Homo sapiens: one gene and its partner. The protein of the gene in region 1 interacts with the protein of each later gene in a biochemical or structural test. Each region holds a gene or a part of one and is shown in the gene's direction. Other genes may lie near its edges.

The links. The genes of interacting proteins can lie anywhere in the genome.
Region 2: the proteins of DDX4 (region 1) and SPSB4 interact in a test that uses a peptide from one of them, tested with the Homo sapiens proteins (one study listed by BioGRID).

The regions. Positions count from the first base shown.
Region 1 is NC_000005.10:55,735,712-55,739,461, forward strand, and holds the start of DDX4 (probable ATP-dependent RNA helicase DDX4), read left to right. Parts: upstream 1-2,349; 5' UTR 2,350-2,390; exon of another isoform or gene 2,391-2,629; intron 2,630-3,238; 5' UTR 3,239-3,252; coding exon 3,253-3,321; intron 3,322-3,750. UniProt on the Homo sapiens protein: ATP-dependent RNA helicase required during spermatogenesis. Required to repress transposable elements and preventing their mobilization, which is essential for the germline integrity.
Region 2 is NC_000003.12:141,145,334-141,149,083, forward strand, and holds the end of SPSB4 (SPRY domain-containing SOCS box protein 4), read left to right. Parts: intron 1-1,808; coding exon 1,809-1,936; 3' UTR 1,937-3,278; downstream 3,279-3,750. UniProt on the Homo sapiens protein: Substrate recognition component of a SCF-like ECS (Elongin BC-CUL2/5-SOCS-box protein) E3 ubiquitin-protein ligase complex which mediates the ubiquitination and subsequent proteasomal degradation of target proteins.

The DNA.
Region 1 (3,750 bases):
AGTTGGGACTATGGGTGCGTGCCACCACACCCGGCTAATTTTTTGTATTTTCAGTAGAGACGGGGTTTCACCGTGTTAGCCAGAATGGTCTTGATCTCTTGACCTCGTGATCCACCTGCCTCAGCCTCCCAAAGTGCTGGGATTACAGGCGTGAGCCTCTGTGCCCAGCCTAAATATAATCTTTTAAGGTTGGGTGTGGCAGCTTATGGCTGTAATCCCAGCACTTTGGGAGGCTGAGGCAGGAGGCTCACTTGAGGCCAGAAATTGGAGACCAGCCTGGGCAACACAGGGAGACTCTTGGGAGGCTGAGGCAGGAGGCTCACTTGAGGCCCGGAATTGGAGACCAGCCTGGGCAACACAGGGAGACTCTTTCTCTACAAAATTTTTTTTAAAAATTAGCTGGGCATGGTGGCTTGTGCCTGTAGTCCCAGCTATTCGGGAGGCTGAGGTGGCAGGATCACTTGAGCACAGGAGGTTGAGGCTGCAGTAAGCTATGATCATTAGTGCACTCCCCTCTGGGTGACAGAGTGAGACCTTGTCTCAAAAATAAATAAATAAATAAATAAAAAATATATTCATTTTGATCATCTTGAGAATAGTCTGACAAAGTTTATTGCTAACTAGATGAATCCTGAAATTCTTGGTGGTGATGGTTCTAGAGATAAAAAGTATGAAGCAAGCCTGAGCCTATTAAGTGCTTTATCCTTTATGTACCAGTATCAAACTGTGTTGCTATTTATGTTCCTGAATGAGATAGGAATTTCTTCAGATTCAGAGAAGGGAAAATGACAGAAACGACAACAAAAATGAGAACTACACTTTTTTTTTTTTTTTTTTTTTTTGAGGCGGAGTCTCGGTCTGAGGCCCAGGCTGGAGTGCAGTCGCGCGATCTCGGCTCACTGCAAGCTCCGTCTCCCGGGTTCACGCCATTCTCCTGCCTCAACCTCTGGAGTAGCTGGGACTACAGGCGCCCGCCACCACGCCCGGCTAATTTTTTGTATTTTTAGTAGAGACGGGGTTTCGCCGTGTTAGCCAGGATGGTTGCATCTCCTGACCTCGTGATCCGCCCGCTTCGGCCTCCCCAAGTGCTGGGATTACAGACAGACGTAAGCCACCGCGCCCGGCCTCTGAGAACTACACTTTTAAAACAGCCCATGGTCACGCGTTTTGAAGGGCTGGGGAAATACTGAGGGATTTTACCTGCTTTTGGGGTGGGGGGTGGGGGCAGAACAAGAAAATCTGATTGAAGACAGCATGAAGTATCAAAATAACCCTTGGCCACTTTGGCTAGTGCCCGTAGGAATATAAACAGGTGGGCCACAAATCCAAGCCTTGATGAATGACCTATGCCAGCACCAATTTCCTCCCTCCTTCTGGATCAGAGCCTGTTTCCTTCCAAAGTGGTGGACCCCCGAAATCTTACAGGCTTTTTTTTTTTTTTTTTTTTCCTCTGTCTCACTCTGTCGCCCAGGTAGAGATCAATGGCATGATCTCGGTTCATTGCAACCTCTGCCTCCCGGGTTCAAGCGGTTCTCTTGCCTCAGCCTCCTGAGTAGCTGGGACTACAGGCAGCCGCCACCATACCCGGCTAATTTTTTTAATTTTAGTAGAGACGGGGTTTCACCATGTTGGCTAGGCTGGTCTCGAACTCCTAGCCTCATGTGATCCGCCCGCCTCGGCCTCCCAAAGTGCTGGGATTACAGGCGTGAGTCACCATGCCCAGCCGAGTCTAACTTTCTTTACGATTTCCTGGGGTCCCAGCTGGACGGAGTCTCATCCCTGCCCCCCTTACTGGGAGGAAAAGGGAATGCACCTCCTCCATGAGCCTCAGCTGCACTTTGAGGCACCTGGAATCCCCGGATGTGGAGCGAGTCTCTGAAATGCAGAACCCGAGGGGCCAACCCATGGACTGTGATGGGTAAAAGGGGAGAGAGCACTAAAGAGGCCAAGTAGGGAGGACATTATCCCTTTCCCCTTTTATTATTATTTTTTGTTAGAAAAAGGCAGGTGGACATATTTAGCTTGCGAAGCTTGCACAAGGAAAATCCAGAGCGTCTCCAGAATAAGGATCCCACGAGAGAACGTGGACACAAGTAGGCCCTCAGCCAGCCTTGTACCCACAGGCCCAACAGGCCACTTGGCTATGAGGCCAGAGCGTCGCCATAGGGGCCCGAACGCTAGCGTTTAGGGAATCCGCAGGCTAGAAGTGGAGGCGGGACGCCACTGGTCGTCTGAGCGCTGATTGGCTGGTGGCGCTAGTCACCAGCCAATCGTCAACAGACGCCATTTGTTGTTGGAGCCACGCACCTGACGCAGTGGGCGTCTTGCACGTGCAGCCGTTTAAGTCGCGTGGGCGCCTGCGAGGGCTTGGGAGAGCAAGCCGCGGAGAGGTGAGTGGGCCGCTTTTCTACGGGAACTGGCCTGAACTCGGCCGTACGGGCTCCCCAGTAACCGACCTTTGGCCAAAGTGTGGATGGAGTAGGAGGAGTTTTGAAGCCGTCCTTCGAAGCCTTTCTGCCTCGGGGTCTCAGAGTCCCACGGGTGCCCAAAGTCTGGGCTTGAGGCCTGCAGAGGAGGCGAAGGGGCCTTATTCCTGGCTTCTTCACTGCGTTTTCTCTGAACAGACATGGTCCGAGTACCATTTGTGTACAAATCCTTCTTGATGAAGCTGGTTGTCCTTTGTCGGCAGGATTTGGGCAACCATACCCTTCTTCCCTTCCCCACTAAAATCCAAGGCCTCCCTCTTCACCGAGTCGCCGCCCCCCTACCCAGTCGACTCCCGTACCCCTGTCCCCGCCCCCACGCACGCCACAAACACCCCAAAGCAAACATCCTATCCACCTTGGATGTTAATCATGCGAAGGGAGAAATCTTAAGTAGTTTCTGAAAAAAGTTGCCTCTCCCTTAATATTCAGTAAGTCGTTTGGGGACCCTTTGAGGGAGGAGATAAAGTCTATGAACAGATGTTTGGGAAAAGCCTAAGTCTTGCTGGGGACATGGCGATTGCTAGAATGACTAGGTAAGAGGTTCAACTAGTTTCTAAAGCTAAGAAAGGATGGAGATAAATGCCACCTTTAGATAAGAAGAGACCTAATTCCTTCTTTGGAAAAAACTTTTGGGGTATCAGCACCTAGTTGGGTAGTTTCAAGATGTATGTGAAACAATGAGTTTATGCTTTTAAAGTTATGATTCTGATCTAATTGAGTCCAAATGTGCATTTTTTTTTTTTTATGAATAGAACTTGAAGCCACCATGGGAGATGAAGATTGGGAAGCAGAAATCAACCCTCATATGTCTTCCTATGTTCCCATATTTGAGAAGGTAATAACATTTAAAGTTTAGTTATTAAATGCTACGGATTTTATCAAAGTTGAAAATCACTGTGGTGAGAGTTCTAAATTATACAGTCTGTGTCAGTGTTTATCTCCATGTGATTGTTATTAACTATTATATGGGGAATAAGAGACAACCTAAGCCTCGTATAGGATACAATAGCTTGAGGCAATTTGATAATTAAAAGCTAAAATAGATGTAAAAATATTAATGACCTAATTTAAATCTCAATGATTTAGGACTTCCTCAGGTGAAAGCAAACTTGGGCAAATGTGGTTGATATCAGTGAAAGACGCTTGTATGGAAAATTGAAAACAATAATTACGTTTTGGGAGATATTTTAAATTCTGAAAATTGATTTTGTGCAAGGAGGGTTCTCAGGATAAATGATACTAGGCTGATTGAGTTGGTAACATC
Region 2 (3,750 bases), on another chromosome or scaffold:
TACTCTTGTGCACAGCTTCCAAAGCATGCTCCCCAAGCCCCACTTTAATTTTAATGGCTCCCCTTATTAACTCTGCAGCTCAGGTAAATAAAAATTCCTATAAAACATATTCTCGACTCTTGACTACATTCCCATGTAAAAAGTACTTCACTGCAGGTTGTGATAAAAAAATGTTTGAAAGCTGCAGGCCTCGGGTGGATCTGTAGAGGGCCTTTCTCTGTGGTACTATTCCTATCACAACTCTTGTGTTAGTATTTACCACTCAACAGTTTTGTTGTATCTTAGTACATTATAGGATGTTTATGAAATATCATTTATTCTATTACCAAAAAAGTATTAAGATGCAGGTTCAGGCTTCCAGCATACTCCTGGAGGACTGGGGAAACCAGGCCTGTACAAACCATACCAGATGCCATGTGACCACCATCATCATCTTCCTTCCAGCTGATGCTAACTGATCAGCACTGTTCCTCTCCCCACAAACCTCCAGGCTGTCCTGTTTTATTCCTCCTTTGCCTTTGCCTGTTCTCTCTGCCTAGGATACCCTCCCCACCCTTATGTGCCTTTAACCCTCCTATTCACTCTTCAAAACCCCATTATGTGTCCTCTCTGTGAAGCTTTCAAACAGCTCTTCTATATAAGAAATTCCCAGTTTCTGTACCTGTATATTTAAGAATTATTGCATATATTACACTCTATTAAAATGATTCACCTATTTAAAATCCCAGATCATGAGCCTCCACCACCCCCCTACCTGCCCCCACCCTCTTCCAGAGCTGCCTCTGGTGCTAGCTTAGTTATCCCTGTATCCCCAGGGCTAATCAAAGGGCCTGGACCAGAATAAGAGCTTAATAAGGGGGTCTGCAATAAACCTAGTTAAAGTTGGTTTAACTGGTCCTATGTCCAGTGGTTCCATTATTTATGGATTTTAACTTACAAATTTTTCCAGAACTAGGTGCTGGAAGAAAATGTAACCCGCTGCTGACCATCAAGGAAAGCTATAGGGGAAGTTTCAGGGTTCACAGGCATTTCAGACAGCCTCTCAGAATCTAACCTGTTTGTAGAGGAAACCCCTCTGCAGATCCACCCAAGGCCACCAGCTTTTAAACATTTTCCATCATGACCTGAAGTGAGAAGTCCTTTTCACATTAAGACACACCAGGCCGGGCGCGGTGGCTCACGCCTGTAATCCCAGCACTTTGGGAGGCCGAGAAGGGCGATCACGAGGTCAGGAGATCGAGACCATCCTGGCTAACACAGTGAAAGCCCGTCTCTACTAAAAATACAAAAAATTAGCCGGGCTGGTGGCGGGTGCCTGTAGTCCCAGCTACTAGGGAGGCTGAGGCAGGAGAATGGCGTGAACCCAGGAGGCGGAGCTTGCAGTGAGCCCAGATTGTGCCACTGCACTCCAGCCTGGGCGACAGAGCAAGACTCCATCTAAAAAAAAAAAAAAAAGACACGCTGAACACCTACATCAGAGACCAGAGACAAGGCTTTCATGAAACAATATTTATCCTTGCTATGGGTATTGCTCCCATTTTCTCTTTTTTTAAAAAAAATTATGGCTGGTCACCACCCATTGAATTGATTTTGTGACTCTTTAGTCTCACTGGTTGCATTCCACAGTCTAATGAACACTCCTCTAGGCCTTCAGCTTATGTAACCAGAGAAATCTTCTCCAAGGAGAAGCCATTGACCCTGAAGGCCAGCTCAGAGGAGCAGGCAGGAGGCGGTATGCAGTGGGGGCTGGGATGAGAAGGTGCCAGGATGGCACAGGGCACACTCTAACTGCTTCCCTCTCATTGCAGCCGAGCCCCTGCCACTGATGGACCTGTGCCGGAGATCCATCCGCTCGGCCCTGGGCCGCCAGCGCCTGCAGGACATCAGCTCCCTGCCCCTGCCTCAGTCTCTCAAAAACTATCTGCAGTACCAGTGAGCCAAGCCTGATGGGCAGCACAGACACAGACACACACCGCAGGGCCCGACCCTCCTGTCATTCACAGTCCCATGGCACATAGGGGAAAGGATCTACCCTTCTCCTGGCTCCCCAGGACACTCAGTTCTTTCAAAGACCAGGATGTGGTACCAACTTTGGAAACGAAAGGTCTCTTGCCAACAGTATCTACTGCCCTCGAGGCAGCCCTCCCAAGTCAGACACCTCCTTCGGAGCCACAGAGAGCCTGGAGTCTGCACCTCCTGGAAATCCTGCCACCAACCAGGACACAGCAGCCACCGTATTGATCAGAGAGCCTGTTTCCTTATTCAAGAGAATGAATAAAACATTTAGGCAGGAGACTTTCTATTGTGTGCCCCGTTGCAGACAGGGCCAGGGAGAAATTAGCCAGTGCAGGGGGAAAATTGCCTCTGAATAATGAATGATGAAAGCCTGACGCCGTGCCCCTCCTGGCCCATACGCCTTGCCAGGGCGGCAGGATTGTCACACCGTTTTAGGACTCTGTGCCACTTTGAGAGACTGTTCCCAGGAGGCCCAACCGCAGACCTGGCAAGTGGACAGTGCAGTGTGGAGACACCTTCCGGCTTACCTCTTTGAACGTTGTTTACCTACCCCTTTCCACGTGCTCCCCTTCCCAGCCACTGACTCACAGTTCTCTGGATGCCCAGACACCTCTCTTCAGGGAAGATGAGTCTGACTGGTTTGCCCCAGGGAAGAGCATATCCTTACCATTATTTTAAGTAGCATTTGCATTTTAAAAGAGGAATGCGGAGAGGACAGTACTTAGTCCAAAGGTGCTAACGGGGGAACTGGGGGCATTGTGACACCCAAGTCTGATGTGTCCTGGGTTGGGGGGCCTTCCTGGAGTGTCAGGGTCTCTGGGCAACGTCCATTCAGGGTGCGGCATGGCTGTCACAAAGCTTTATTTGAGCAAATTATTTTTTCACTTTAGGAGACTTCTACAAGTTTGTTTCCTGTTTCAAATGTGTGTGTGATGTGCTGTTTATTTATCAGCTTGAGGTCCATGGGGGCAGCCTTGTGACTGGAAGGGTGGATATGGGAGACACATTCTCTACCTGCTCCGAGCCTGGTCCTCTCGCAGGAATGCTGCTGCTGCCTCCGCCGCCACTGCTGCTGCCACCTCTTATATGTTTCAGACACTCTCTGCCCAGACTCATTTTTAACTGGAAATCATCACAGCAGTGGGATATCAGAGCCCCAGACAGCACTGCCTCTTCCTCCCCACCCCACTGCCCCCACCTTAATGTGAATTTGACTGATGAATGAAGAGCGTTTCTAATAAAGTTTGTCATTCAGTCCTTCAGCTGCGTATTAAATGTTGTTTGGGGAGGGACCCAGAGAGCTTCTTCCATCAACCTGCCTGGTCCGTCAGACTGATAGAAGCCAGGCACGTGAATCCCTCTTTAGACATTTCTTGTCTCTTCTGACTTGTGGTCCTTGCTTGAGCCCAAACTCCAGCTATTTTGCAAAGGCCTGCCCTGGACAAGAGAATGTGCCTGTGTCCTGGGTACATGCAAAGCTGACCTTATGGTGGAGAAACAACTCAGCCTCCTGTTGCCAGAGCCAAGGGGTAGCCCTGCAAAGGGGCTTAGGGTCAGGCAGGGCAAACCCTATGGAACACCAGTTTCCAAGTGGACTGGAGGTGGGGCTGGATGTGACTGTAGTGAATGCATGTTGTCACCAAGGAGCAGTGCAAATTGTTGAAGCATGAGTGTAAAGAAAGGCCAGGCTCAGAGCTGATAGCAGTTCAGGAGTTAGAGTCAGGATAGGGTCTG